3 separate regions of the Homo sapiens genome follow, and regions 2 and 3 are each linked to region 1. The links come from fine-mapping of genetic effects on gene expression. A gene starts in region 1. Each other region holds a variant in brackets. All regions are shown on one strand. Distances are from middle to middle. Region 1 holds the start of NRDE2 (NRDE-2, necessary for RNA interference, domain containing). Region 2 overlaps PSMC1 (proteasome 26S subunit, ATPase 1). Region 3 overlaps NRDE2 (NRDE-2, necessary for RNA interference, domain containing).

What was found.
Region 2: its variant is fine-mapped to the expression of NRDE2 in tibial nerve (GTEx, PIP above 0.99). The same link has a PIP of 0.9 or more in subcutaneous fat.
Region 3: its variant is fine-mapped to the expression of NRDE2 in whole blood (TOPMed, PIP above 0.99).

What each region holds. Positions count from the first base shown.
Region 1 is chr14:90,326,460-90,337,156 of GRCh38, reverse strand. It overlaps NRDE2 (NRDE-2, necessary for RNA interference, domain containing), which reads left to right and starts at 5,216. Exons shown (of 14, transcript NM_017970.4): 1 at 5,216-5,316. The coding sequence starts at 5,253. RefSeq lists a silencer at 4,983-5,132 and enhancers at 5,283-5,462, 10,279-10,697.
Region 2 is chr14:90,265,957-90,276,653 of GRCh38, reverse strand. It overlaps PSMC1 (proteasome 26S subunit, ATPase 1), which reads right to left. Exons shown (of 11, transcript NM_002802.3): 8 at 8,241-8,430; 9 at 7,106-7,257; 10 at 6,302-6,456; 11 at 1,225-4,381. The coding sequence ends at 4,247. NRDE2 (NRDE-2, necessary for RNA interference, domain containing) reads left to right here. Exons shown (of 14, transcript NM_017970.4): 14 at 1-8,794. Among named protein-coding and RNA genes, the nearest start is that of PSMC1, 15 kb to the right of the region's middle. The variant T/ATAAAAT (reference allele first, on the strand shown) is at 5,594.
Region 3 is chr14:90,293,745-90,304,441 of GRCh38, reverse strand. It overlaps NRDE2 (NRDE-2, necessary for RNA interference, domain containing), which reads left to right. Exons shown (of 14, transcript NM_017970.4): 5 at 60-507; 6 at 1,317-1,722; 7 at 3,070-3,203; 8 at 6,062-6,182. Among named protein-coding and RNA genes, the nearest start is that of NRDE2, 33 kb to the left of the region's middle. RefSeq lists a silencer at 1,343-1,637. The variant AG/G (reference allele first, on the strand shown) is at 5,362.

The DNA.
Region 1 (10,697 bases):
TTCCCTCTTAAGGTGAATGAAGTTTGTTTATACATGTTCTGAGTACACCATTTTAAAAGTGTCATTTGTCATTCGAACTATTAATAATTGGAGTACCCTCAGGTTCTGAGTTTGTGACTTTGAGTGTGGAAATGGTATCATTTATTTATTCATTCACTTGTTCATTTTGTATCATTTAGGACTCTTGGTAGCAAGTGGCAGAATTTGTTTACTGAAATGTGAGATGTATTATAATGATATTGATATTGGGTTTCCTAGAACCCAAGCATAGGAATGCAGCAGAGCTCCAGGGAGAATTAGAATTAGAGTTCCAAAATCCCAGGGCCCGTCCTGTCCAGCTCACTCCTGGTTTTATCTTCTCTCTACAGGCAGTTTACTCTGCTTCTCCACCAGCTCCTGGACTATTATATCTTGCAGTCTAGACACACAAAGACAGACAACTTTTTCCTTTTCAGTTCTAGTTTCAAAATTCATGGAAAAGAACTTTGCTTGGCCTGGCTTGGGTCAGAGCTGGGTTGAGCACCTATCAACTAAGGACATGACCGAGCTGGGTCATGCACTTACCCTAACCTGTCAGATGGGGCTGGGACAGCCAGACCACATTGTACTGATAGGACTTCTTGTGGATTCAGAAAGGAGCCTGCCAGTTAAACAAAATAAAACATGTTCACTACCTATTCCTTTTTCCTTTTTTAGTTTTACTTAAAAAATGATAGAGACGAGGTTTCACTATGTTGCCCAGGCTGGTCTCGAAGTTCTTGGCTCAAGCAATCCACCTGCCTCAGCCTCCCAAAGTGCTAGGATTATAGGCATGGGCCACCATGGCTGGCCCCCTATTCCTTTTTCTATAATATCCTCTTCCAAAAGTGAGTGGGAATTATGTATGCAGTATTTTGCCAGCAAACAAGTACTGAGTACCTACCTATTTTGTATCTAGCTGCCTCTTGCCGATCCTTTTGTTCATATCATGTCTTCTGGAATAACCTAAAGGTTGTTTTCTATAGTTTTTAGCTCTCACTCATACCCACCTCTTTTCCGTTCTTTTTTTTTTTTCCTTTTCTTTTCTTTTTTTGAGACAGGGTCTTGCTTTGTTGTCCAGGCTGGAGTGCAATGGTGCGATCATGGCTCACTGCAGCCTTGATCTCCTGGGCTCAAGCAATCCCCCTGCCTCAGCCTCCCAAGTAGCTGGGATCACAGGTATGCACCACTATGCCTGGCTAATTTTTAACTTTTTCTGTAGAAACAGCATCTCACTTTGTTGCCCAGGCTGGTCTCAAACACCTCATCCTCCCACCTTGGCCTCCCAAAGTGTTGGCATTACAGGCATGAGCCACTGCACCCAGCCTCTTGTTTGTTTTTTATGGACAGACTAGCTGCCTGCTTTATTAAGATCAAAACTCTTATCCAACTCCTCTGCAACTAAAACAAAGCCTCTTTTCACATTTCTCTCCTGCAGGATTTTTGTTTTTGTTTTTGTTTTTGTTTTTCCTTTTCCTTCCTGCCATCTTCAGGGAAAAGATTCACTCATGTCAGGGTCCAGAGGCGATCAAGATCTGTGACAAATACAGGCTAATGAGAATACCCCAGAGAATGAGATAGATGCAAAACAGCAACTTAACAGTCTAGAGTGAGTTATTTCTGCCACAAAGAAGAGAGATACTTAAAAGTGGTTGAGAAATTCAGTCCCTTCCTTTAGTCAAGCTATATACAAAGCCAAATCATTATCTGAAAACATCTTTGTTTATTCTGAGAAATCCCTGCCATATGCACTGGAAATACCCAAAGCCTATAGATTGAAATAGTAATAATAATAATAATAATAAAGTGAGTTGTTTTTATTCTTTCTGCGATTGTTTTTCAATGCAGAGAAGACTACTCAAAAGTTTACTTTTAGTTGACTCTAATAATAAAAAGTTTGCATAGGTCTAGAAAATTACGGCAATAGGTCAGGTTAGCCCACTGCCAATTGGTATGACCTATGCATTAAGAATGATTTTTACGTATATAAATGTTGAAAAAATAGGCAAATAACATTTTATGACATGTGAAAATTGTATAAAATTCAAATTTCAGTGTGGTTGCGACCACATGTCTTTTTTTTTTTTAGGTGGAGTCATGCTCTGTTGCCCAGGCTGGAGTGCAGTGGCACGATCTTGGCTCACTGTAACCTCTGCCTCCCAAGTTCAAGCAATTCTCCTGCCTCAGCCTCCTGAGTAGCTGGGAGTACAGGTGCCTGCCACCACTCCCGGCTAATTTTCGTATTTTTAGTAGAGACGGGGGTTTCACTATGTTGGCTAGGCTGGTCTCAAACTCCTGACCTCAAGTGATCCACCCGCCTCAGCCTCCTAAAGTGCTGGGATTACAGGTGTGAGCCACTGCATCCAGCCAATACCATATGTTTTATGTGACTCTTTCCAGAAAAAAATTTGCAGACACAGTGTTTAAAAGATTGGCATCCAATGTATTAAAAACAAATTGAAAACCCTTGTTTGTTCTTAAGCTTTTAAGAACTTGGTCAGTTACACACCTGTGATACCCCCACCATAAACAAGAGTCAGAATATTTCCATCAAGCCCAAAACATTCTCCACACCCCTCTGTGGAATATCCCTCTCTTCGTTCCCAGAGCAAGGGAAACACCGATCCACTCTCTGTCACTATATATTAATTTGTATTTTCTAGGATTTTGTATAAAGAGAATAACACAGTAAACACTCTTTGTGCCTGGCTTTTTATACCCAGCATACCAATTTTGAGATTCATTCATGTTGTATGTATCAGTAGTTTGTTCCTATTGTTATTATTATTGTTGAACAGCCATTATTTATACTCATTCTAAGGCTTCTAACTTCTTGTCCAAAAGCTTTTTTCAACTAGGGAGGGTGAGCTTTGCTCATGGTGTCTATTTCGTGAGCTCAGAGCTGCCTCGAAATGGAATCTTCAGCCTCCCTCATGCTCCTGCAATAGGACCCCATTATTCTTATAAAGCTAACCAATTACACTTACAAATATGGCGAGCTTTAGATTCTCTTGGATATCCTGAAACTGCTTAAACCTCATTAAGATTTCAATTTACTGCCGGCCATGGTGGCTCACACCTATAATCCCAGCACTTCGGGGTGCTGAGGCAGATGGTCGAGACTGGAGTGAGCCATGATCGCACCACTGCACTCCAGCCTGGGCGAGAGAGGAGATCTTGTCTCAAAAACAAAACAAACACAAAAAGATTTTAACTTAAAACCAGGAGTCTGTATCAGTTACTTGATTATACACTTTCAGTTGTTCTTATGAGGAGGGTCTCTTGAGCAACATTCTCTTATACATTTGTAAGTACACAATATACCTAGTATACCCAGATTCCTTTGTATTACAGAAACATTATTATTATGGTTTTAATTTCTTAAAACTTCCATATTAATTCTTACTTTTCTGGGGTGGAAAGATAGGAGGCATTGGGATAGACTATTTCCATCCCAGTTACCTGAAGTGATCTGCTAAGAAAGACAAATGCTGCCCCAATTAATTGAGGTAACTTAGAGTCAAAGATTTTGGCAGAACCTGAGATTTAAAGTTGAAGACATACAGGAATTACTGCCCCTATTGTCATACTAAGCTCCTTTTTGTAAGTACTCTGCCAGGGACTTCAAAGCATTAAGGGTGTCTATTTTGGACTCATAGAACCTAATTCTTATGCAGGTCTGCAGACTTCATCAGAGTCCATCCATTCCTTGATTAGATGATTACATTTGCATCTCTGGTTTATAATGTATTTCCTAACTAAAGATCTTTAACTCCCTAGGATCCCAATAAATATATCTTCATTTACCTATCTATTTTCACTTGCAAATATTTCAGTATATATCTCTAATATATAAGAACTTTAAAAAGTAATCTCAGGCTGGGTTGGGGGGTGCTCAGGCACAGGCACCCAGCACTTTGGGAGGCAGAGGGGGGCAGATCGCTTGAGCCCAGGAGTTCGAGACCAGCCTGGGCAACATGGTGAAACCCTGTCTCTATTAAAAAAAAAAAAATTAAGCCAGACATGGTGGTGTATGCCTGTGGTTCCAGCCACTTGGGAGGCTGAGGTGAGGGGATTGCTTGAATCGAGGAGTTCGAAGCTGCAGTGAGCAGAGATCGTACCACTACACTCCAGCCTGGGTGGCAGAAGGAGACCTTGTCTCAAAATAAATAAATAAGGGTCACCTCAGTGACATAAGTACTTTAGTACATCTAACAGAATTCACAAGAATTACTTGTGAATTGCTTGTACTCTGCCTACCTTCTTATTTCTCCATCTATCTTAAAAAGGTCTTTTTACAGTTTGTCCAATCAGAATTATAATGAGGCCACAAATATGTTGTATTTGCTTGATGTGTCTGTAAGATCTTCGTATCTATTACAATCTCCTGCCCTCTTAAAGCCCTTGATATGTTAAGGAAGCACGGTTGTTTTCTATAATTTCCCATATTCTAGATTTGGCTAATTGTTTCTTGGTAGTACAAAGTCTTCTAAGTTGTTCCTTTACTCTCTATATTTCTGGTAGCAAGTGTGATTAGATTTTGGGTGGGAGGAACCGGGGTCAAGAATGCTTCACAGACAGGTATTTCCTAACTATCAAAGACCCTTGAACTTGATGGGACTTTCCATTTTTCCTTGTTCTGGGGTATTTAATATGGTAACCTGATTGAAGTTCGGATATCTCACATGACTTTGAGCCGAACTTGCAGTCGTAATTCACATAATAGCTAACACATATTAAGTGCTTTTCATGGGCCGGACTCAATGCTAGGCCCTTTATAAATATGTTCATTTAATCTTCTCAATATTTTGCAGATAAGGAAAGTAATGCTTAGAGCGTTTAAGTTGACCCAGTTAGCAAGGATGGTGTGAATTTAGGGGTCGAACTGGAATCCCAATTTCCTTAGTCCCTTTCGCGGTCAACAATTCCCTTCTCCGGTTTTCGCAGTTCCGGTTCTCACAGGGTCCCAACCACTAGGAACCCGTCACTCCTCGCTCCGCCCCCCTTGGCCCCGCCCCACCCTGCTTTGCCCTGCCTCTCCCTGCCCCGCCGCGCCCCAGTCCCTTGACGACCCTCCTCTCTGGGCCCCGCCCCTCCCGCTTCGGGGTCAAGCCCCAGAGAGCGCCGCGAAAACCACATTTCCCAGAGTGCACCGCGACGGCAGGGGTCCTCAGACCGGCGCTCGCTCGCCGGCGCCATCCCTATAGAGAAGAACGGAGGTACGGCCTGTGGTCATGGCGCTGTTCCCAGCCTTTGCGGGGCTTAGTGAGGCTCCCGATGGCGGGAGCTCCAGGAAAGGTAAGCACACAAACGAGCCGAAGAAGGCACCTGGGGGGCTTAAGAGGCTGTTTCTCGGGCCCAGGTCTAGACTTTTGCTTTGGATTTGTGTATCCATTTGTATCCCAGAGTTCTCCGCGGCGCTGCAAAGCCTTCTGGGAAAGGCTCAATCCCTCCGAGGTCTGGGGCCCAGAGGCCTGTTCTGGACCAAGGTTGTAGAGTTATGGAGGGGTGGAGAAAGACCAGCAGATGCCCTGGAGCTGGGACTTCTGTACGATGTTGTTAGGTCCTGTTCTTCTTTTCGAGCCTCAGTTACTTCATCTTTAAATTGGGAATAATGATACTCGACATCTCGAGGAAACCCTTGATGCAAATGCAGAATGTTTTTATTACATATTACTTCCTTTCCTGTTATACTTATTTCTGAAATGCTTATTAGATTGGTATTACTTAGCGGCCTAGAGCTAGGGGATTAGTATCCAAAACCTAATCAGTTTCTCTCTGGAGGGGCACAGCACCCAGTGAAAATAACTAACATTTATTCTTGAGGGCCTAGTGTGTATCAGGTTATGGCTTTACACATTTTACTTAAGTCCCAGACATTTCCAGCAGAGCTGCATTGTTCAAAATTGGGGTACATAGTTCATTTAAGAAGTAATTAATCCTGGCCAGGAGCAGTGGCCCACACCTGTAGGTGGAAGGATAGTTTGAGCCCGGGAGTTCATGACCATCATGATCAACATAGCGAGACTCCTGTCTCTTAAAAAAAAAGCCAGGCGTGGTGGTGCACACCTATAGTATCAGCTCCTCAGGAGGCTGAGGTAGGAGGATTGCTTGAGCCCAGAAGTTTGAGGCCGCAGTGAGCCATGATCGTGCCGCTGCATCCTGCCCTGGGGTGGGGGGACCTTGTCTCTAAAAAAAAAAGAAAAAAAAGTAATTCTAAATTATGTGCCATATGTGACAGGGCGCAATTGAGTCTTACCTGTCTGTTATATCCTCTAATATAGTTCCTACACTTTCTGTAACGTTTCTCCTAATTTTTTTTTTTTTTTTTGAGACAGGGTCTCACTCTGTTGCCCAGGCTGGAGTACAGTGGCACTGTCATAACTCACTGCCGCCTCAGACTCCTGGGCTTAACTTCCTGCCTCAGCCTCATGAATAGCTGGAACTACTGGTGTGCACCACCAGGCCTGGCTAATTTTTTTTAATATTTAGTAGAGACGAGGTCTCACTGTGTTGACCAGGCTGGTCTCGAACTCCTGAGCTCAAGCGATTCTCTATCTGAGCCTCCCAAAGTTCTAGGATTACAGGCATGAGCCACTGCGCTTGTCCTATTTCTCATAATTGTGAGTAATTTCTTGTGTAAAATTGTTGTCTTCCCTTACTAGACTGTAATCTCTATCAGGTTGGGCAGTGTTTGTCTATTCATTGTAGCATAGTTAGCCCCTAGCACAGGTCCAAAGTATAATAGGTGTTCAATAAATATTTTCTGGATGTACAGATCGATAGTAGTTACTTAATAATTACGTGTTGCAGGAATGCATGAGTGCACCTAAAAGAAGTGTATAGTACAAGGTGGGATATTACAGATACCATAGGTGAACTGCAGGATTAATTACTTCTTTTTATTTATTTATTTATTTATTTTTTTTTTTGAGACCAAGTCTTGCTCTGTCGCCCAAGCTGGAGTGTAATTGTACGATCTTGGCTCACTGCAGCCTTCGCCTCCTGGGTTCAAGTGATTCTCCTGCCTCAGCCTCCCGAGTAGCTGGGACTACAGGCACTCACCACCATGCCCGGCTAATTTTTGTATTGTTAGTAGAGATGGGGTTTCACTGTTTTGGCCAGGCTGGTCTCGAACTCCTAACTTTAAGTGATTCGCCCACCATAGCCTCCCAAAGTGCTGGGATTACAGTTGTGAGCCACCACACCCAGCCCAGGAATAATTACTTCTAATAGAAGGTTCAAAGAAGGCTTTATGTAGGAACTAATATTTTTTTCTTTTACTTTTTTTTTTTTTTTTTTTGAGGCAGTCTCACTCTGTCACCCAGGCTGGAGTGCAGTGGCACAATCTCAGCTCACTGCAACCTCCGCCTCCTGGCTTCAAGTGATTCTTGTGCCTCAGTCTCCCGAGTAGCTTGGATTACAGGCATGCACCACCACACCTGGCTAATTTTTTGTATTTTTAGTAGAAATGGGGTTTCACCATGTTGGCCAGGCTGGTCTTGAACTCCTGAGCTTAGATAATCCGCCCACCTCGGCCTCCCAAAGTGCTGGGATTACAGGTGTGAGCCAACGTACCCAGCCTACTTTTTTTTTTCTTAAGTAGGGACAGGGTCTTGCTATGTTGCCCAGGCTGATCTCAGACTGCTGGGCTCAAGTGATCCTCCTGCCTCAGCCTCCCAAAGTTCTGGAATTACAGGCGTGAGCCACTGTGCCTAGCCAGGAGCTAAGTTTTGGATGGATCTTCAAGAGAGTAGGATTTGGACAAATAAAATGGGGGAAGTGTATACCAGGGCCTTCAAGTCCTGCAGAAGAAAAGTGTGAGAACTGCAAATCATCTAGTTTGTCTGGAGGTGTAGTGGCATAAAGAGGAGCCTTGGGAAATATGGTTGGGCTGGTGGTGATGGAGGATAGTGATCTTTAATAACATGTCAAAGCTTTATCCTTTTATTTTGAGAGGGGGAAATCGAACTTTTGCAGAGGAGTCTTACTCTTAAATAGTATTTATTTGACATCCTCTGGATATCTACAATCAGGAAAATGTGTGTAAAAGTATGTTTTATAAAGTATTGTCTTTTGAAAAAATATAAACACAGCATCATCTCTTGTAATGGAAAAAAGCCTTAATTCTTTTCTGGTCATTTTCACTTACCAGTCAGTGTTCAAATTTCACGAGATGTTTCAAAAATGGGATTTTACAGTTGGATTGTCCAAGTCAATTTCCAAAATACAGCCAACATTGCATTTTGTGGATATATGCCTTAGGTCTCTTTCAGTATAAATCGGTTTCTTCCTCTCCTTCATTCCATGTGATCGATCTGTTGAGGAAACCGTGTCATTTGTCCTGTAAATGTTTCCCACCAAATCCTCATAGTGTCACTTAACATGCTTCTGTATTCCAGTATTTCCTGTAAACTGGTATTTACCTCTAGTCAATTAATTAGATTGAGATTTAATCTTTTTGTTGAAAGTACCTCATTGGGGGAGCAATGCACTTGCTATGGAATCATTTCAGGAGGATGCCCTGTCTAACGTTCTCTGTTTTAGTGATGTTAAGATTGACCAGTGGATTCATGTGTTTGCAACCTGTTTCATCCCATATGAAGCAGCCCATGAACCTTACACCTAATGATTTTTGCAGCCATTTATGATTATTGTTTAGGTTCATTATTATTTCATTGAGGTTGCAAAATGGTTGTTTTCTAATTATATCATTCCTCCTGTATTTATTAACATCAATTATTCTATGAAGAACTATTGGGATACCCTGAATACAGTTTAGTTAGGCAGGAAAGACAGGATAAATACTTTTTTCTTTTTTTTTTTTTTTTTTTGGAGACAGAGTCTAGCTGTCGCCCAGGCTGGAGTGCAGTGGTGAGATCTGGCCCACTGCAACCTCCGCCTCTTGGGTTCAAGTGATTCTCCTGCCTCAGCCTCCCTAGTAACTGGGACTACAGGCATGCGCCACCACTCCTGGCTAATTTTTTTTTTTTTTTGAGACAGAATATCTCTCTGTCGCCTAGGCTGGAGTGCAGTTGTGTGATCTTGGCTCACTGCAAGCTCCGCCTCCCGGGTTCACGCCATTTTCCTGCCTCAGCCTCCCGAGTAGCTGGGACTACAGGCGCTTGCCACCACGCCTGGCTAATTTTTTATATTTTTAGTAGATAGGGGGTTTCACCATGTTAGCCAGAGTGGTCTCAATCTCCTGACCTCATGATCCGCCCGCCTCTGCCTCCCAAAGTGCTGGGATTACAGGTGTGAGCCACTGCGCCCAGCTTACTCCTGGCTAATTTTTGTATTTTTACTAGAGACAGAGTTTCACCATGTTGGCCAGGCTAGTCTCGAACTCCTGACCTCAAGCGATCCACCTGCCTTGGCCTCCCAAAGTGCGTGAGCCACCTCGCCTAGCCTGGGATAAATACTTGATTCATTCCTTTCGTTAGTTTCAGAATAATGAGTTGGGGGTCCCAGTAACTTCTAGAGGTGACCAGTGAGGTGTGAAGTTTTTTGTTTTCATTATGAAGTCATGAATTTTTAATGTTTATATTTCAATCCATTGCAGGTAGGCTTTTTTTTTTTTTCTTTTTTTAGAAATGAGGTTTCACTCTGTCGCCCAGGTTGGAGTGTAGTGGCGCAATCACAGCTCACTACAATCTCCAATTCCTGGGATCAAGCAGTCCGCCTGTCTCAGCCTCCTGAGTAGCTAGGACTGCTAGTGTGCACCACCACACTTGGCTGATTCATTTATTTTTTTAGAGATAGAGTCTTGCTACATTGGTCAAGCTGATCTTGAACTCCTGGCCTCAAGCAGTGCTCCCGCCACGGCCTCCCAGAGTGCTGGGATTACAGGCATGAGCCATCATGCCGGGCCTGACCCAATCATCTTTATTTAATAGCTTTCTTGCTTTCTGTCCTAAGAGATGTCCAGGAATCATCACTTACATTTTCTCTTGTGGCCTGGAGTTGGCCATTTCTCCAGGGAATCCTGGTTTCTTTTAGTGGAAAATGATATGGATATATGAAAACCACACACTGGGTTGTTAGGGGTATCATCACCACTGTGTTGTCATTACTTCTAGACTTTTTCAGTGGATGGAACCAGGAAGAGAAAAATACATCATGAATTCGTATTAGTATTTCCAGTCCAAATGTAAGATTATGAAGCTTTTACTTCTTTGATTTAATTTTTAAATTTCTTTATTTGTTCAAAATAACAGTATTAATGTGACTAATACTAACAGTTTCAGATTTTTTTATGGTTCTATTTGTTTTAAGGACATGGCCCACAGTGGATATGCGGTCAATTTACTGAGTTTGAAAATCACTTGAAACAATTCCCTGTGTGGTTTTACCACCAGTTTGATATATGGTGATATAAATATTTTCCATTTTTAGGGATTGTTTTTCTTTTTAATTTGATTTTGTTTTATAATGATGTAAAATGCTTAGCCTAACGTTGAGATTGTAAACCAGGTATATTCAGAGGAGAAAAACCTTCCATCTCTGTTTCTCCAACCTGTCACTTTCCTTCCCCTGCAGACTAACATTTTCATTAGCCCATGGTATCCTCCCATTTTTTTTCCCTCCCTTCTATAAGAGCAACTACATTTTCCCTCTCTCTTTTTTTTTTTTTTTTTTGAGACAGAGTCTCGCTCTGTCGCCCAGGCCGGACTGCAGAC
Region 2 (10,697 bases), 61 kb after region 1:
GCTGCTCGAACAGATTGCGAGCACATTACTTGCTGCATGGGAGGAGGTTTAAAACAAATCAAAGATTCCTTGAGGGCATTTTACAGAAAACAAGATGTCAAGAGCATCACTGTTGTTATTTAAAAGCCCATTTGAGGCCAGGCGCGGTGGCTCACGTCTGTAATCCCAGCACTTTGGGAGGCCGAGGCGGACGGATCACGAGGTCAGGAGATCGAGACCATCCTGGCTAACATGGTGAAACCCCCGTCTCTACTAAAAATACAAAAAATTAGCCGGGCGTGGTGGCTGGCGCCTGTAGTCCCAGCTACTCGGAAGGCTAAGGCAGGAGAATGGCGTGAACCTGGGAGGCAGAGCTTGCAGTGAGCCAAGATCGCGCCACTGCACTCCAGCCTGGGCGACACAGCAAGACTCCGTCTCGAAAAAAAAAAAAAAAAAACAGCCCGTTTGAGATTGCTGACATGAACTTCTGAAAGATGACTACGTGCCTCCCAAGACTAACCGTCAGCTTGGAGGGCTGAGAAGGGGGTTCCCAGCTGGAGTCAAACAGTGGCTCATGTGTTTCATCAGGAACGCTCGTCATTTCCCCGAAGGAGTCACTGATCACATCAGACCACAGGGGTCGGCCCACCTCGGGTTTGGGACAGTGTTCTTTCCTGGAATGAAGCAGTGGCAATGCCTCTGGCACAGGATTGCTGGGCCTGCAGGAGGCCAGGAGGCACCTCTGTGCTGTGTTCCCAGTAGGAGGAGGCAGCTACTACTTGTAAGGCACACATATCATTTTGCATTGGAAAAGTGAAGATAGGCTTGCTGCAGAGGGAGTGATGGGAGAGTTCACCTTAAATTGTTCTACTGAGGAAGGGCTCCAAAGAGCCAGTGGGTTTTCCGCAGGCAGACGGGGTTCTCCCTGTCCGGCTCACCAGTGCAGGAAGCCAGGGAAGAAATTACTGTGGGAATTCTGTTATTTCACAAGCACTTCATACCTGCATCCCTGCACTTGGCACCGCAGGCCTCAGTGACCAGCTGCCGAAACGGTAATTTCAGCATTTTGGTCAGTAAGCAAACTGGAGAAGCAGCTGGGGTGGGGCGCAGTTCAGCCCGCTACCCTGACACTCTAGGCCCTGGCATTTGCTTTAGCTGCTTTTGTAGAATTGACATGAGGGAGACTGTCCCTCTAGAGGAAAACGCTCAGCTATTACCAATGAGGAAAAGGCAATACTGATGTGCTGGGGTTTTTTGTTTTTTTTAATCTCAAACTTAGGAAAAGATGCAAGTGCGTTACAAAGAATTTTGTTTCCTGAACCGTGTGAGTCAGTTGCTGAGAGTCTGCTACCCGCCCACGATACAGACACTGAACAGGAAGTCAGCATGGACGCAGTACTCCTAGCAGGTCCTCAGGCCCAGTCATGTCCTCTAGGAAAAGGATCCAGTTCAGGAGCAGGAGCTGCACTTGGTTGTCATCTCTTTGGTCTCCTTCTGATTGGAAGCTTTTTGACTTCCAAGACGTGGATACTTTTGAAGTGTTCTGAATTTGTAGAATGTTCCTCAGTTTGTGTTTGCCTGGTGTTTCCTCAGCACTGGATTCAGGCTAAGCATCTTTGGCAGGAGTGTGACAGCACTGACACTCTTGGGTGGCACGTACTTTCAAAGTGCCCATTACTGATGATGTGCATTTGACCACTTGGTGAAGACGGTGTCTGCTGGGCATCTCCAGTGTGACTTTCCCTTTCTAACTGAACAGTGTTTTGTGGCAGACTCTCAAAATCTGTAAATACCCCTTCCTCAGCAAACTTTCAGATCAATTCATATGTATTGGGGTGTGTGTGTGTGTGTGTGTGTGTGTGTGTGTGTGTGTGTGTGTGTGTGTGTAGTTCCCTATTTAAAGGGCTATACTGTATTCCATTAATAGTAACTGTTTGTTAGGATGCTCAGATTGTCCCGAGTTTGGCCAGTGGAAGCCCCTTCACATAGGCTTCGGTGTCCTTAGGACATGTCCTTATCATTCCTTGAGCACTCCCTTGCTTTCTGGCAAAACAGACTTTGGGTTCATCCTGTCCTTTCCCTGCCTAGCCCCGGAATCAGCCCTCACTCCTTTTAGTGGAGAATAATACTTTTAGCAGCAAAGGTCTGGGTCTAGGGGTGCTCACTGCAGTTGGGGTGTCACTGTTCCCAGGTGCTCCCAGTGGACAGAGGTCGTTCTTGTTTTCTTCTTTCTGTGTCTAACTCCTCAGAGAAACCTGGCTCCCACTGTCCTGTTTACCTGCCTGACTGCCTCCATACATAAGCAGCCTCCCTCCCCTGCCACCACCCCGTCCCTGCAGATGCCTTCCTCACCCACTTGGGCTCTCATACTGCACATCAGGCTGCCCACACTGACTCCCCCTATCGGACCACCCCAGCCCTGCACATACACCCCACACGGATGCCAGCCTCACCCTGCCCATGCTGAGTCCCCGTGCTGTGGTGTTCCTCCACATGGACAGCTCCACACCCTACTTGGGCTGACACCCGCCCTCCCCACAAGCACCCCGTCCTTACCCTGCACTGGGCCACCCCCACGTGTGGATGTCCTCTGTGGTAGGCAGAGTGGCGCCCCTAAAGATGGCCACACCCTAAGCCCTGGAACGTGTGAATGTTACATGGCAAAAGGAACTTTGCAGATAAAAATTAAGAAGATTGTAAACTTTAAAACAGGGAAATTATCCTGGATCATCTGCATGGGTCCAATGCAATCACAAGGATCCATAAGAATAGAAAAGGCAGGCAGAAAGAAGGGTCGGTGGGAGAGAGGGACTGGGCCTGCTGCTGCTGGTGGAAAATGAAGTGCCACGAGTCAGGAGGGAGGGTGGCCTTCACAGACTGGCAAAGGCCTCAGCTGGCAGCCAGCAAGGAAATGCTGACCTCAGCTGGCCCACAACTCCAAGAAATTAAATTCTGCCAACAATAATCCTCAGCAAGGAAACGGATTCTCCCTTAGAGACGCCAGAGGGAACGGTCCTGCCAACAGCAAGACTTTAGCCTGGAGACACTCGTGTTGGACTTCTGACCTACAGAACTGAGATAAAATTGTGGTTTTTATTTATTTATTTATTTATTTTTGAGACGGAGTCTTGCTCTGTCGCCCAGGCTGGAGTGCAGTGACGGGATCTTGGCTCACTGCAACCTCCGCCTCCTGGGTTCAAGCGATTGTCCTGCCTCAGCCTCCTGAGTAGCTGGGACTACAGGCACCTGCCACCACGCACAGCTAATTTTTGTATTTTTAGTAAAGATGGGGTTTCACCATGTTGGCCAGGCTGGCCTCAAACTTCTGACCTTGTGATCCGCCTGCCTCAGCTTCCCAAAGTGCTGGGATTACAGGCGTGAGCCACCGTGCCTGGCCAAATTGTGCTGTTTTTAAACAAAGCCTGTGGTAACTTGTTATAGTATTAACAGAAAACTAATACACACTCCTCATTCAGTGTGGGCCCTACAACCCACACCAGGCCACCTGTCAAGGGAACGCTTACCTTGATCTGTCCCACTTAATAGCTTTAGGCCTGATTTGTTCAGAAAGAGAAATGACGGAAATAGACGGAGAAAGGGAAGGGGAAGTTCTGACATGTTTCTGAACACCTTGAAAGGGATGAGATTTCTGAGCCCAAGGGCTCAGAAGGGCTTTCAAGATATCTCTAGGAATCCTCAGTCTCTTGGGAACACCAGTAGTTATTTTCTGCCCTCAGAGTGCTAAGAACATGCATGGTCCACAAAACTTCCAAAAAGGAAAGCTGTACTTCCTTTGGAAGCAATAGCCACATTAACGCAGCCTTTATTATTTAAACAACGAATATCCCTGGCTCTGTGGTAGTGACCATTTCCCACTGTAATTACCGTTGAACGCCAGCTCTGGGGGTGTGATGTGGCGAACGCATAGTGAGGTCCACACTCCTTGGGACCGCAGCCTGAGTTCCTGTCCAAAGGCTTCCCTGTAGCTGGGTCCACCCACAGGCTGCTGTTGAGCGGTAGGTGTGTGTGGAGACTGCAGAAACAGGAAGTGTTTGTGAAAGAGCACGCTTTATTGGGAAGCAGACTGCTGCACAGTGACCAACAGGCCACCCAATGGGCACTTACACATCGTACTCCAAAAGACACAGGATGTTTTGCTAATAAAAATCAGTGGGAACAGGGATTCCTCTGGGCAACTCCCCCAACCTCATCCCTTTCAGGGATTGAGAAATCTCCCAACCATTTTCCTGATGACAGCCATGGTTCATTAGAGATACAGCCCCTCAGGGGTGCCTTCCTGTTTCTTATAAAGAACATTTTCTTTAGATTTTTTGAAGTCTTCATTTGTTACTTTCATTCTACGTTCTCTTAAGGCCATCAGACCAGCTTCTGTACAGATTGCCTGTAAGAAAGAAGAGTGTGTTCAGAAAGTGACATACTCATTTTTATTCTAACAAGGAATTCCAAAAAACCTATTCTGAGGCCAGGCGCGGTGGCTCACACCTGTAATCCCAGCACTCTGGGAGGCCGAGGCAGGTGGATCGCCTAAGGTCAGGAGTTCAAGACCAGCCTGGCCAACACGGTGAAACCCCATCTCTACTAAAAATACAAAAAGTTAGCCAGGGACGGTGGCAGGCACCTGTAATCCTAGCTACTCGGGAGGCTGAGGCAGGAGAATTGCTTGAACCCGGGAGGCAGAGGTTACAGTGAGCCGAGATCGCGCCACTGCACTCTAGCCTGAGCAACGAGCGAAACTCTACCTCAAAAAAAAAAAAAAAAAAATCTGTTCTGAAATAAAGCATGAGACACCTAGACTAAACACAAATTGCTTATTTGGGAAAGATTTGATTTTTAAAAAAAATGTTTTAAGCATCCTATTTTCTGAAAGGATGTGAAGTGGCTTAAACTGGGAGTTACTGTAACTAAGACTGACCCAAGGGTCAGGGCTGTGGGTTCTAGTTTTGGCTCAGGTTCTAACAAGCTATGTGGCTTGTACAACACCACTTTTGTTAAAGAGAATAATATTCCTAGGAAATAAACAAAATTATGCCCTGAAACTTAGAGGCAATTGACAGTATATGTCTATTTCATTTACTTATAGTCATAAAAGAACATGTATTCTGGTTAGATACTGTAAGTGGCAGTATCTATACTATGGAATAATACTACAGAGTATAGCATTTATTCCAATATATTTAATTTCTCAGTAATTACTGGCCCAAAGTAAAAGAAAACAATAACCCATGTTACATGGGTTACTGTTATTGTTTTAGGCCTGATCTGTTTAGAAAGGAAAGAGAAATGAAGGAAATAGATAGAGAAGGACAGCAAACAAACATATTATGTGGGTTACTGTTATTGTTTTCTTTTTCTTTTGGCCAGTAATTACTGTGGCAAAAACAAGATGTGGCAAAAAACACAATCCTGGCACAGAAGTTTGTTTGGTGATGGCCATCAGGTTATTTACTTCAAATGGTTCGGGTGAAAAGAAAGTTTTGTGTATAGAAAGAGAAAAAGCAAACAGGTAAAATGTTAACTCTTGGCAAATCACTGTGCTATTGTTGCAACTTTTTTGAAGGCTTGAAAATTGTCAAAGTAAGTTCTTATCTTAAAA[T/ATAAAAT]TTTAAGATCTTTCAATTTTTAAAAAAGAAGATAGATTTTACTTGCCAACAGAGACATCTAGTTCTCTAGGACTAACTGCCAATGATCCGTGGGCTCAGGGCAGGTGCTGGCCTGGAAAGGCACTGCTTGTGCTGTCCCTACCTAACCATGGCATTTATGCCCAACGAAAACCCAGCTCTTTCCAGGAAAAGCAGGTAGAACCCATATTCAACGCTGCCAGACCTTGCTGTAAATTCTGGTCAGCTGGGAGGAAATGTCCTAACTCATGTACATTTGTCATAAAACCAAGAAGTATAATCTGGTACAACCTTCCAGAACACAGATTGGGAGATGAATGCAGCGGGTGCTTGGTCCCCACTCTGCGGCTCTGGGGAGAGTTCTCCCAGGACATACCCTTCCCCTGACCTGGGACTGAGCAGCTACATTTGACACACCTTGAGAAAGTCACCTGGGCCTAAGGCTTAGTACCAGCGACTCAGCCTTGTGGCTCCAGGTGATTTAGCGTCATTCACTGCATAAAATGATGCATTAAGAATGACTTCAATATCAAGCACATATACCATTTGGATGTAATCGTAAACCAATATGATGATTAAAATACAGACACCCACCTGTCCAGGCCAACCACCATCCCAAGAGCACATATAGACTCTTTCCTGATTGACGGCCACATTCCCAGAAATAAGCTGACACGGCTAGGCTCTCACCTTGATGTCAGCACCAGAGAGGTCATCTTTAGCCATGATCAGGTCGTCCAGGGTTACATCATCAGCCAGCGTCATCCTGCTTGTGTGAATCTGAAAGATGCGCTTCTTCGTCTTTTCATCAGGCAGGGGGAACTCAATCTTCCTGTCAATGCGGCCTGCAGGTACAAAGAGATTTGAAGTCACACCAACATCCAAACCCAGGCTCGGCCATGGCTCAGAGGCCTCAGCCCATCTCCTTACATACGAAGTTTCAGTCGGACAGAATTCTGTGGGAAGGATGTCTAAATTTTAAAAAGTAAACATATATTTTTGTAGTTTGTAGATTTCTACATTTGAATTCTCTTCATTTAAAAGAAACTCTCTCTGCTTTGGTACCTTCAGAAATAAATGAAAGGAGCAATTCCTGAGTGAAACTGGGCAGACCTATTGTGTTAAAAACATTACAAAAGACAGCAAACAAATCACTGTTTCTTCTGATGCTACCTGAATGTAAAAAGGACAAATCCTACCATCACATGAATTATTTCTTCCAGAAAAAGCAGCAAGTTCTTGAGGCTAAAAAGGGAATGTTATGGAAAAGAAAAGACAAGACATAAGACTGGAATTCAAAGGGCCAAGGTGCACAGACCATATCATGCTCTGTTTTAACCCTCATCTCAAGAGGACCTATTTTTTTGTAAATTATCCTAAGTTTCACTGCAGTATTTGCTTTTTTATGTATCATTTTATAGGCCTCCCAAAGCACACTTAAACACAAATATATAAACACATTAATCTCCATGATGAAACCAAAGCAAATTTAACCTGGTCTGATAAGTGCTGGATCCAAAGTTTCTATTCGGTTTGTGGCCATGATAACTTTCACATCTCCCCTAGAATCAAATCCATCCAACTGGTTCAGCAGTTCCAACATTGTTCGCTGAATTTCTCTCTCACCACCAGAATTGGAGTCATATCTTTGGAAAAAAAAAAAGGGAAGGAATGAAGACTCAACTGATCGCCTGCTCAAGGGGAATTACAGCAAAGACCTCATTGTGACAAAACACCTTAACAAACATTCCTGTTTCAACTCACATGGCACTCCCTCAATTATGCTCGGAAAAAATAAATTCAGCACCCCTTGCCATGGTCTGAATGTATTTCCCCAAATTTATGTGTTGAAACTTAATCCCTACTGTGTGGCTAAGAGATGAGGCCTTTTGGAAAGGGCTAAAGGCATGAGGCAGAGCCTTATACAGCATGAGTTCCTTCTAAAAAGAGAAAAAGGCCTTATACAGCATGTATTCCTTATAAAAAATGCTGCAGGGAACTAGTGTAGGCCCTTTTTGCTCTTTTGTTTGTCCCCTGAGCATTTGTCTCCTCTGCAGAATAGGTGCCATCTCGGAAGCAGAGAGCAGCCCTCACTAGACATCAATGCCAGTGCCTTGATCTTGGGCTTCTCAGCCTCCAGAACTGTGGGAAATACATTTCTATTCTTTATACAAATACCAGTCCTAAGGTATTTTGTTTAGCAGCACAAATGGACTAAGACGCTCCCATCAGCCAAGTTACAGATCATATTTTTTCATAGCAGTTTCTGTGTCTGAAATTGTATCATTTATTCTGTTTCCATGTTTGGTATCTGATCCCTACAACCTGTGAGCTCCTCCAGGGCAGAGACTTGTGCTCACAACTGTGTCCCTAGAGTCCAGATGGTCCTGGATCAGGGCGGGTGCTCAAGACATGGTTATTCATAACTGACCAATCTCTCCAGACGTTCACAGTTACTGGGCAGTTGTTAGCTGGCTCCTGGGAGAGCAGAGCCTAAAGCATGCATGGAAGGCCACGCACAGCAAGAACTGTGGCCATAGGGAGAGCCCCCTGAGATTGCTCATTCTCAAGAGAAGAGCTATGCGGTGTTCCCTACTAAACAAGGCAAAATAAGTATGAGAAAGTCTACCTTTTTGTCCCAATGGCGTCAATTTCATCAATAAACACGATGGACGGTGCATGTTCTTCAGCAACTCGGAACAATTCCCGTACGAGTTTGGGCCCATCACCTAGGTACTTCTGAATAAGTTCAGAGCCAACCACTCTCAAGAAAGTGGCTGAGGTTTGGTTTGCTACTGCTTTGGCTAACAAGGTTTTACCTATTTTGGATGAAAAAGATAAAAAAAAAAAAGACACCTTAAGTGCCATTTTAACTTAAAAACTCGTATCATTACCACCTTAAATGGACACCAAAAACAGGCGGGCCCTCATGCTAAGGCATGGCACCAATTCAAGTGTCACGACATTCCATTCTCCTAAGTAGATAAGAGGACATTTAGAAAAATCTACTAACATGTTTGGATTATCCTTAGCTATTTTGCTGAACTTATGATAACGTCAGAAAATACTTTTTACTTGGTTATTTTCCAACCTTGACCCAGTTTCCCCTGAAAAGCTGCGAACTATAATTACCTGTACGAAGAATTGCTTCATTCCAGTAATGAAATAAATCTCATTTTTTTCTCTGGTTGAGTCTGTCTTGGGCCCCTTCAAAGTTGCATACATTAACCTGACCCATCCAACCCAGGGCTGTAGAGCCAAAGTAAACTCCTAGGAAACCATCAGTGCTGGAAAAAAGGGTCTGGGAATCCTAGCTTTGGCCCTAAGGAGATACACGAAGTGTTCCTGAGCTCCAGGCATGCAGTGCCTACTGCTCCAGAAAAGTAGCTACTGGGTGGGCTTGCTGCCAGCTCAGACAGCTGAGACAGGACCAGCTCTTGATGAACGCCACAGTGAGAGCTGCTGTGGCATGCCCTTCCAAGGGAGAGGCAGTTCCTCCCACTGATCTCAGGGAAGAGCTCAAACATCATTTCCAATACTGCTCTACTTGCTGATATTTCTGTTTCAGGTTAAAAACAAGAGTCAGCTGGCCAGGCGCGGTGGCTCACGCCTGTAATCCCAGCACTTTGGGAGGCTGAGGCAGGAGGATCACCTGAGGTCAGAAGTTCAAGACCAGCCTGACCAACATGGAGAAACCCCGTCTCTATTAAAAAAGTTACAATATTAGCCAGCACATGCCTGTAATCCTAGCTACTCGGGAGGCTGAGGCAGGAGAATTGCTTGAACCCGAGAGGCTAAGGCAGGAGAATCGCTTGAACCCGGGAGGCGGAGATTGCAGTGAGCCAAGATCGCGCCATTGCACTCCAGCCTGGGCGACAGAGCAAGACTCCGTCTCAAAAAAAAAAAAAAGAAAAGAAAAACAAGAGTCAGCAAAGAGTGCCCAACTTGAGAATTTTTGAATTGGAAGACCTGGGATCCTTTGGTGGTCAGTGAGGACCTTGACAAGGGCTGGGTAGGTGCCTCAGGATACAGAGGCAGTTAGGGGCAGAGCTGGCAGCCTCGGGCCAGCACGGGAGGAGTGTGGAGGTGGCTAGCTGGTGTGTGACAGGGAAGACTTTCCAGAAATGGGATGGCTGACACAAAGCTCAGCTTTGCAACATGTGGCAATGATGTTGCTTTTAGACAGGCAGAGTAGCAGATGCAAAGGCTGGACTGCTCCCTGAAAGCATCAATGAGGGAAGGTGAACAGAAAACAAATAGGACCTTTCCAGTGGATAGGATGTTATCGTGCAGAAGCAGCCAAGTCTAGCCAGTGGGCTGCTTCTGCGGTCAGAGGGCTCACTGAACAAGCTGCCCGCTCCTCTGACAGACTTGTTTGTCCAGTCCTGCCTCCCAGCCCTGTACCGCAGCCCCTTTAGTACTAGAGCCCCACAGGGGGCCTGCAGCTGTGGGTCAGGAGGCCTGTGTTCCAGCTCCAGCCCTGTTACTAGCTCAACTCCCACAGGGGCCTTGGGCTAGTCACCGGCCATTCTGAAACATAATTTCCTAAGCTGTAAGATGAGGGGCTGTAGAAGAGGGATCTCTTCTAGCTCTCGGCCTCTGGGTACAGGTGTCTCCGTCTCTCCATTGTGGGTACCCCTCAGCACGGATCTTCTTAGGAACACTGTCAATTCTCTCAAATGACTGTGCTTCCTTTGGAATCTGCACAGCAATGAACTTCTAAGTCCTGAGCTCTACCAAATGAATCTGATACTGCAGAATAGGGTGGGTTTTTTTTGTTTTTTTTTTTGGAGATGGTCTCGCTCTGTCACCCAGGCTGGAGTGCAGTGGCACGATCTCAGCTCACTGCAACCTCAGACTCTCAGGTTCAAGCAGTTTTCCTGCCTCAGCCTCCCAGGTAGCTGGGACTACAGATGTGTGTCACCACACCTGGCTAGTTTTGTATTTTTAGTAGAGATGGGGTTTCACCATGTTGGCCGGGCTGGTCTTGAACTCCTGGCCTCAAGTCATCCATCCGCCTTGACCTCTCACAGTGCTAGGATTATAGGCATGAGCCACCATGCTCAGAATAGAGCTTTTAAAGTAG
Region 3 (10,697 bases), 33 kb after region 1:
GTCATTCAGAGGTAGTACACGTATTCCCTCAGTAACTTTTTTTCTTTTTCTAATATCAGATACAAGAGGAAAGGAGACTCCTGCCTTGGCATTAACCCTAAGAAGCAGTGCATATCTTGGGAAGGGACTTCCACAGAGAAGAAGCATTCACGCAAGCAGGTTGAACGCTATTTTACTAAGAAGAGTGTGGGATTAATGAACATCGATGGAGTTGCCATTAGCAGTAAAACTGAACCTCCCTCATCTGAGCCCATCTCCTTTATACCAGTGAAGGACTTGGAAGATGCGGCTCCTGTTACAACCTGGTTGAATCCTCTGGGGATTTATGATCAGTCAACCACACATTGGCTACAAGGACAGGGTCCTCCAGAGCAGGAATCAAAGCAGCCAGACGCACAGCCAGACAGCGAGAGTGCGGCTCTCAAGGCCAAGGTGGAGGAGTTTAACAGGAGGGTGCGGGAGAATCCTCGGGATACGCAGCTGTGGATGGCATTTGTTGCTTTTCAGGTATGTGTTGCCATCCCAATTCTCTTACCTTAGAAGGACATTCCTGATTTTGGGCAAACTGATGGACTGTGCAGCAATTTTTGAGCAAATGAGGAAATTTGACACTGGGCATACAAAGATTATTAGAATAGAGCCTTTGCCCTGAGCTCGCTCAAAGTCCAATGAGGAAAATGGACATGCGAAGAATAAGTGCACCCTGGGGTAGTAAATGCTGTAATGTATAACTTGGGAGTGGAGTGAGGGAATGGCTTGTGTTGAGGGAGGAGAAAGAGCTACCAAGGAGAAGGTGAAGTTCAACACAATCTTGAAAGAAGAGATGTTCACCAGGTAGGGAGAGGCATTCCTGAAGTACAAACAGAACAGGCAGAGCTCACGGAATTGTGAAAGAGAGAGGGCTGTTCAGTGTATTACCCAGTTAGAGCCATGCATTCTCTTTCGAAAACTTGTAGGTTTGTCTGAATCCCTAATTTTGAACCACTCATACAATTACCATATTTTGTGCCACATTTGGCCCTTTTATTGGTAAGGTCTGCTCTTCAGAAAAGACTTTCAAGGCATTGTATGCTAGTCATTGATGCAGAAATCAAAGCTTAAAATGGCAGAGAGTGGATAATTAAGTGATAAATACAAGATCAAACATATCAGGTGACACAAGCACTTTAGGATCCAGGTTTTCTTTAAAAGAAATAGTGGCAAACTGGTGGTTTAAGAAAGTCCCTAGGGGGTGGTAAGAAAATCAGTAAGCATTGTTGAAACTCAGGATCTCCCAGGTCCATTTGCATTTGTAAATTGGTGTTTTTGTTGTTGAGGACGAGGTCATGAAAAGTCCTGGCCTGTATGCCATCGAGGAAGGAGAGCAGGAAAAGCGAAAGAGGTCCCTGAAGCTCATTCTGGAGAAGAAGCTGGCCATTCTGGAGCGGGCCATTGAGAGCAACCAGAGCAGTGTGGATCTGAAACTGGCCAAGCTGAAGCTCTGCACAGAGTTCTGGGAGCCCTCCACTCTGGTCAAAGAGTGGCAGAAACTGATATTTTTGCATCCCAATAATACAGCCCTTTGGCAGAAATACCTTTTATTTTGCCAGAGCCAGTTTAGTACCTTTTCGATATCAAAAATTCACAGTCTTTATGGAAAATGCTTGAGCACTTTGTCTGCTGTTAAGGACGGCAGCATCTTATCTCACCCTGCGTTGCCTGGCACGGAAGAGGCCATGTTTGGTAAGGAGATAACCAGATCCAGTTACGTGGGAGGAGTTAGACTTTCTTTTGGCTTTACTTGAAAATGAAGATCTATTTTTGATTTATTCTAGAAAAAGTCTAAATTGTTTGATAGAACTGATTTTTTTAAAAAAGTATTACGACTCTTTTTGATAACAAATTTGCCCCCAGCTCCCAGGGCAGGTGGGGGCAATAGGGCCAGTAGAGTTAAGATATCACTGGACAAGGTTCTGCTGATTAGCCAAGTAAACATAGGCAAGTCTCTTAACTGCTTTGGCAGTCGGTGGCCTTATCTGTCGAGATGCATGTACCTGTCTCACCCAATTGTAGGGTCCCAGGCAGTAATGTCCGTGAGATGCCCTGACTGGGAACCACTGCATAAATAGAAGTTTTGGGTATTATTATGCTGTTAACATTTTTGGTGTGTCCTGAAGGAACCTGGAACATTAATTTTGACAGTAATGAGATGTTGGAGGCTGCATGTTATGCAGAGCCAGAGAGTATCACTTTTGACCTTGAATCCTGAAGGGTTTGCCCTTCACTGGCTCTCTTGTGTCCTTGGGCAGGTCCTCTTTGAGCCCCAGTTTCTCCATCAGCAACAATACTATAAACCTGCTTTACAGGACTGTGTTGCACAGTAAACGAGATAATCCATGGCGAGTCTAGCTCAGTGTCCGGCACAGAGCAGGCATTTATTTGATCACAACCCCTGTTATTGAGTATTAATTACTGTTGGCATCTAAAGATAGAAATACATTGCTCTCAAAATATAAGCATTTATCACACTGACACAGAGTCTTGAATTTGTCACTGTATGTGATCTACACAAATAGCTTAGTGTTATTTAGTAGCTGGAATTGTACCAAAAGTAAGATGAACTGGAATGTTCAGACATGGAACCTTGATTTGTTTACAGCCGACTCTGAACATAGGATGAAAGTTGCTGGTGAGTAATGCCATCTAGTGATCAACTGAATACAGCTCTTTGCTTTCTGATAAAAATCTGCTACGCCATCCTTTTTCTATAATTTTTCTTGTGATAATGAGCTGTGATTATTTGATAGCATTCAGACCAACCTCTTGACTTATTTTTATGTACTATATATAGTTTTTGTTGTTAATATTTGTGTTCTGTGATGCTTTCATACAAAAATTAGAACAAACATACTTGGATTATAATACTGTGTGAGACGCTTTAAATCAAGACATGTATCACAGCTTTGTAAATTAATAGTGATTGCAGGTGAAAGGTGTTCTCAATGTGTTAATTGCCTGTTTTGAGAAGTTAGGTTCTTTCCCTTTAACGGTATCAACCAGGCTTCTTCCCCTTTGCCCTCCTGTTCGCAGCACTCTTTCTTCAGCAGTGCCACTTTCTGCGGCAGGCTGGCCACTCTGAGAAGGCCATCTCATTGTTCCAGGCCATGGTGGACTTCACCTTCTTCAAACCCGACAGCGTGAAAGATCTGCCTACCAAAGGACAGGTACCCAGCTCTGCTCGCCTCATCTCTCTCTTCCTGGCTCTTTCTCTGGAGGGAGAGGGGGAAGGTGTGGATAATGAGAGGTGGTGTGGATAATGAGAGGTGGTGTGGTAGTGTTTTTAAAATATCATATCCTCCTTTATATCAGTCTGCTGAGGAGGAATTCTCAGAAATAGTCCAGTGATCTGAGGAAAGTTTTGTAATGAAAATGGTGAGATGTGGATAGGTAAAGAAGCTTCCCCCTCCTTCACAACATAAAGGCTCTCTGAGGACTCACCCTCCCACCCTGCCTGCCTGCCTGCCTGCCTGTGTTCCTCCTTTCCTTTTCCTTTCCCTGCCCCCTTCCCCTCCCCTTCCTCCTCCCCTCCCCTCCTCCCCCCCATCCCCTTTCTGCCTTTGTTTAAATGCTGATTGGCTCCCCTAGTCAGGGAAACAGTTGTCATGCCATTTTAAACCTTGTATTACTCTCTTCCACCCTTACACATTCTAGTTTGGGTCTTGCATCACTTCCTCAGTTAACCTTCTAAGTACCCACAATCTTCGCTAGAGTTGCAAATGAAATTACACAGAGATACCTTGTCAACAGTGATCCTTATTGGGGAAGGGTTAATCCTTTAGATGACAAGCGAGCATTGCCAATGTTTGAGATAAATGAAGATAAGTGAAGAAATAAAGAATTTTTATAGAGCTATGTATATAAGAAAATGTATCTTTTCCCTTTTTCCACTAAATAAAACTCAGTTTTCTACTCTGTAAAGATGTCTAGTGGAAGATAAATAGAATATATGAGTTTATGGTGAACATTCAAAAGTGTTTCTTGAGAGGCCAAGGCCTCCGTCATGTGGGAGTTTCATGAATTGCCAGTAAAGACCATTTTTATCATGATGCTACCTCTAGAAAAAATTGGATTAAAGAATTATACCAGTTAAATTGCTATAATCAATCATTAATAAACCATATAACAGAGTAATTTTAAGACATGCTGTGAGATTTTAAGAATAGGCTGTACTACAGAAGTGATTCTCAGCTGACTCTAAGGAACCTTGTGGGTCAGGATCAGAATTTCTCTCACCCCCTCCCCCTGCCCCTTTCCTAAGACCCTCTGTGATAAGAACAGAGTGATGGGTGGAGGGTTCTGCCTACAAATGTGACCCATCGAAGACCACTGCTCTAAAGTGTTGGGAGACCCCGATCCTCGTGCTTGAGGTTTTAAACACGAATAGCACATGTGATTCCAAAGCATTTACATGACAACTTTGGAATAAAGTTTCTTATTTACTAATATTCCATATTGCTTTTATAACTGAGAGACGTTGTTACCGTGAACACAGTAGCGTGATTTAACACAGGCAGGTCTGATATTACTGGTCTGCGTTTCTGTGGAATAAACAAATAGATTATACTCATTTATCACACTATTTAAAAAAAATTTTTTTTCTTAAGTAAACTTTCTTTCTTCACTCTTACAAGAGCCAGACCTCTAAAGAGGGAGCGTAGTCGTCCTGGTTCCCCTTTCTGAGGATGACTGACGTGTCAGGACGTTTGCCCTGCCCTGACGTGACTCTCCTGGAGGCAATACTCCTCCAGGCGTGTGTGGCATTGCCCAGGGCTCAGGCTAGATAATCCTGTGGCTCATGGCCCATGCTGTGCCCACTGGAAGCCTGCTTGTCCTCTTCAAAAGGTTTCTTACAAAAGCTTTCACTGAGTAGGTTATTGGCTCACTTTCACAGTCCTGTTTCCAGTTGATAACATGATCACGTTTCTGTTCATTGCTGTGTTCACATTCTGTTCCATAGGGAAAGATTTATTGCCAGTGAGCTGCTTACCACACACCTAATGCTCGAATGAATGAGGGAGGTGCTAATGGGGCCAGGCTTTAAAATGCAGACCTTTAGGCTGGGCGCGGTGGTTTAGGCTTGTAATCCCAGCACTTTGGGAGGCTAAGGTGGGCAGAGCACCTGAGGTCAGGAGTTGGAGACCAGCCTGACCAACGTGGAGAAACCCTGTTTCTACTAAAAAAACACAAAATTAGCTGGGTGTGGTGGCTCATGCCTGTAATCCCAGCTACTCGGGAGGCTGAGGTAGGAGAATTGCTTGAGCCCGGGGAGGTGGAGGTTGCAGTGAGCCAAGATCACACCACTGCACTCCAGCCTGGGCAACA[AG/G]AGCGAGACTCTGTCTCAAAAATAAAAATAAAAAATGCAGACCTTTTTACTCCCTGGTCGCCTGCCTTGTTCAGATCTGTGCCAACAAGCGTTTATTGAGTCCCTGCTAGGCAGTAAGTATTGTGCCAGGTGTTAGGAATATATAGTTACTTAAGATATGGTTGTGTCACGTAGCTCATGGTCTGTCTTGTTGGAACCTTCCTCTCAAAATATCTTGAAAGCGGCATGACTTTAGGAATTAGCTCGGGGGTCCAGTGATACTAGGTGAACTGGCAGTGCCACTGTCCCTGGTTAGACTGGCCTGGCAGGATAAGAACTAGGAAACTACTCCCTTCCTACCCATCTGGAGACCCTTCTTGCTGAACCTCAGCTGGTCTTTTTGTAACCTAATCCCGGGAGTGACCCCCCATCACTTTTGCCATATTTTGTGTGTTGGAATCACTAGGTCCAGCTCACATGCGAGTGTGAAAACCACAAGGCAGAGGTAGGGTCATGGGGGCTATCTTGGAAGCTGCCTGCCACGCTAGATAGATCTTTTTTCTATCTTGGGGTGTGTAGCATGTATCTACTTCAAAGACTGATGGCAAACATGATTTCAAGGATCATAAGCTTCTCTTATATCCACCAGCGCGGATTTTGCCCACTGACTCAGCAGTTTTATACAAGTGAGGTCTAACGTCCATTCTAAAATCTGAACAGGTGGAATTCTTTGAACCCTTTTGGGACAGTGGAGAGCCCCGGGCTGGGGAGAAGGGAGCCCGAGGCTGGAAGGCGTGGATGCACCAGCAGGAACGAGGTGGCTGGGTGGTCATCAACCCAGGTAAGTCACCTCTCATTGAAGACGTGTACTTCTGTTTCTTCTGGAATTTGTTTTTACATCCTCATGATTATTTATCTGCTTAAGCTATTTATCAGTAGCTTCAGAATATTGCACAAACATCAAAATGTCAAAAATGTTAAGTAGATGTCATGGGTTCCCCTTAGAAGTTTTAAAGCAGTGGACTTATTCCTTCAGTACATAATGCTTTGAGGATTTGAAAGTTTCTGTAATTTCCCTTTTTCCTTTTATAGGCTGCAACTGAAGAAGGAATCTTGTTAATAACTGCCCCAATCCTCATTCTTTTTTTTTTTTTTTTTTTGAGACAGAATCTCGCTCTGTCACCCAGGCTGGAGTGCAGTGGCAGGATCTCAGCTCACTGCAACCTCTGCCTCCTGGGTTCAAGCAATTCTCATGCGTCAGGCTCCTGAGTAGCTGGGATTACAGGCTTCTGCCACCATGCCCAGCTAATTTTTGTATTTTTGGTAGAGATAGGGTCGCCATGTTGGCCAGGCTGGTCTCTCTGGTCTCAAACACCTGACCTCCAGCGATCTGCCTGCCTCAGCCTCCCAAAGTGCTGGGATTACAGGTGTGAGCCACCACGCCCGACCCCATTCTTTTTTAGTGTGTATTTCAGACAGTCTTTTTGTTATCCTGTCAGTGTACAGACCAACAGATACTTTGAAAAATACCTTTTTAGGACTATTATAAAGTAATTATTACCTAGCATTTACATAACTGTCACTCTAAATGACCCCCAAATACTTTCCAGATTTATACTCTAATACAGAGCTGCCCAATAGAAATATAATGTGAGCCTCTTGTGTAATTTCAAATTTTCTAGTGGCCACATTAAAAAAGTAAAAAGGAACAGATGATGTTAATTTTGATAGTGTATTTTACTTAATCTAGTATATCAAAACATTTCAGTATGTAATTAGTATTTTAAAATTATTAACCAGAGATTCAGATGCCAATTGCATGCTTTAAAAAGAAAAAAAATTATTAACTAGGTATTTTGCATTCTTTTTTTAGTACTCTTTGAAATCTGGTGTGTATTTTACACTTTTAGCAAATCTCAGTTCAGACTAGCTACTTTTCTTTTTTTTCTTTTTTTTTTTTTTGAGACAGAGTCTTGGTCTGTTGCCCAGGCTGGAGTGTAGTGGCTCGATCTTGGCTCACTGCAACCTCCGCCTCCCAGGTTCAAGGGATTCTTGTGCCTCAGCCTCCCAAGTAGCTGGGATTACAGGTATGCACCACCACGCCCTCCTAATTTTGTATTTTTAGTAGAGACAAGGTTTCACTGTATTGGTCCAGGCTGGTCTGGAACCTCTGACCTCAAGTAATCCGCCCACCTCTACCTCCCAAAGTGCTGGGATTTCCGATGTGAGCCACCGCACCCAGCCCAGACTAGCTACTTTTCAAGTGCTTGATAGCCACATATTAATGGTGACGTATTGGACAGCACAACTCTAAGACATTCAGGAACTGCTTCACTCCCCGAAAGGCAGTTCCAGCATAGAGAGAGATCTGCCAGGCAGATGATGATTTCGTTGAAAGTTCTATAGGGAAAGAGTGATGGACAAGGACTCAGGAGATTGACTCCTTGCCTAGGCTCAGTGAGCCTCTTCTCACAGGTGTGACCTTTCTTTGTTTATTCATTTGCACCATGAAAACTTTGGATTAGGTATTGTCTTGCACGACAGTTCAGAGCTCCGGGCCAGGGAGCATCTCTATTACCACTAAGAAGCGAGAGGGGCCCTTCAGGTGTTTTGGGGTAACTCTCCTCTGGGCAGTGCTGTCAGGCAGTGATCATGCCTCACTTGGGGCTGTCAGAGTCTCAGCTGTTTAGATTTCCCTGGAGTGTTCTTTTCCAAAAAGAATGAGAACTATTCATCAGGCTGACCAGTGGTTTTATGTATGAAGAAAAACAGCCTGCATGAAACGGAAGTAGGTATTGCACTCAGCCACTGAGTCTGCAAGACCGCATAAGCAAAGGCCAAAAAAACAGAAGTCTGATTAGTAACTCTCCTCTCTGAGTGACTGACTTAGCATGGGTCTGTGTTTTTAGGCTTAGTTTTTTTGTTTTTTGGTTTTGTTTGGTTTTTGTTAGAGAGCGAGCCCATTACAATGCATAGTATCTGTTACACGGTTTGCTGTGTTCTGCATTTCTGTGACAATAAAGTTTTCATAGCAGTGTCCACAGACTAATTTTACTTCTGATAAGTTTCCAGATATCTAATGGTCACTTAAAATCAGGTGTAAAGTTAGTTTTCTCCAAAAGGGAATGCAAATGAATATCAAAACCTTGACTTTTAGCATCAAGTTAGAGACTTGTGTTGGTACTTACATTCTCTGCAAGCTTCTCACACATTTCCATTATGGAGAAACTTGCTGAATTTATGAATTTCTTTCTAATGAATTTAATGGAAGTCCTCCAAAAAACTAGAAGGGTCAAAAGAAAGGCTGAAAATTTTCTTGATTCCAGCAAACCTAATTGATAACAATTTTTGTTTTTATTTTATTTTTAACTTCTCTTATTTACCCTGAAAGGTTAGCGTTGAGAGGGTAGTTGATTTCATCCTGCAGTCAAGCATTTATCATAGCATGTTTCTTCTCTCTTGCCCTCACTTTCTGTTAGTATGTAGTTGTTATACATGAATGTGTGTCCAAAGCTCTGTAATCTTTTGAGTCCTTAATGTAGTAAATTCAGGTATCTAAGTCTGATGTATGACTCACAAAGGTAATTTCTCTTATAAGAGTTTTTCAGGGTGATTAAAGGATTACTTTAAACATAGATCTTTAGAAGAAGGTGATAAATACATTCAGTTTTCTTCTTTGAGAAACTCAGAAGAGCATTTAGGCAGAATATTGGTGGAATAATAGAATGCTAATATATACATTATGCTAATATATATGATCTATAATGCTAATATACACAATATATTATTATTATACTACGTATACATATTATGTGTTTTAAGTTTTTAAAAATGTTTTATTTTGAAATAGTATAGAGTCACAAGAAGTAGAAAAAATGTACCCAGAGGTTTTGTGCACCCTTCATCCAGTTCCTTCCAGTGGTAGTACCACAGTATAATGTCAGAACCAGGGAACTGACATTGGTACAGTCTGCAGTTCATTCACATTTCACCATTTTACATGCACTCATTGGTGTGTGTGTTTCTATGGTACTAGGCAGTTTCTGTCACGTGTGTAGCTTTGTGTAATCACTACCACAATCAAGATCAGACTGTTTCATCACTGCAGGGCTCCCTCACAGTATCCTTTCTTAGCCACGTCTGCCCCTTCCCCCTCCTAACTCATGGGAACCACTAATCTGTTCTCTCTCTGTTTTCCTGTTATCTCATGAAGGTTATATAAATGGAATCATAAGGTATATAACATTAACAAAATTTTTTAGTTGTAAAATATAATATAAAATTGATCATTTTTAAGTGTACAGTTGAGTGACATTAAGTACATTCACACTGCCATGCAGCCATCACCTCTATCGACCTCTGCAACTTTTTCATCTTCCCCAAGTCTGTACCCATTAAAGACAAATTCCTCACTTCTCCCTCCCCCCAGGCCCCAGCAGTCATTCTACTTTCTGTCTCTATGAATGTGACTACGTTAGGAACCTGGTGGATGTGGAATCATACAGTAGTTGACCTCCTGTGACTGGCTGATTCCGCTTAGCGTAGTGTCGTCAGGGTTCATCCATGTCACGCCAGGATTTCCTTCCTTTTTAAAGCCGAACACTTCTCCACTATGTGTGTATACCATCCATTTGTCAATGCACATTTTGGTTGCTTCCACCTCTGGGCCATTGTGAATAATGCTGCTATGAACATGGGTGTACAGTATCTGTTTGAGACTCTGCTTTCAGTTCTCCTGGGTAGATATTCAGCAGTGGAATCGCCTCATATGGTAATCCTGTGTCTAGTATGCCATGCTGTTTTCCATACAGCAGACGGCAGCTGCACCATTTTACATTCCCACCAGCAGGGCACCAGGCTTCCGATTTGTCCACATCCCTGGGAACAGTTGTGTTTTGTGTAACTTTTTGAGATTGGCTTTTTTAACTTAGCATAACTTCCCTGAGATACCTACAAATTGTTGCATATATCAATGGTTTGTTCATGTTGATTGCTGAGTAGTATTCCATTGTGTAAATGGACCACAGCTTAACTGTTCAACCTACTGAAGGATGTTTGGATTGTTTCCAGGTGTTGGCGATTATGCATGAAGCTGCTTCTGAGTATTAGCATATAGGTTTTTGTGTAAACGTAGGTTTTCATTTATCTGGGATCAGTGCCCAAGAGTGCAGTTATGCTAAGTGCATGTTTAGTTTTGTAAGAAACTGCCAAAATGATTTCCTGTGTGGCTGTACCATTTTGTATACTTTATTTTTTAACCTTGAACTTTACAGATAACTCTGGCTTTCTTCCTCTTCCCTTCTACATGTTCAGAGTTAGGAAACAAAGTGAAATAAATTATTGGATATTGATTTGG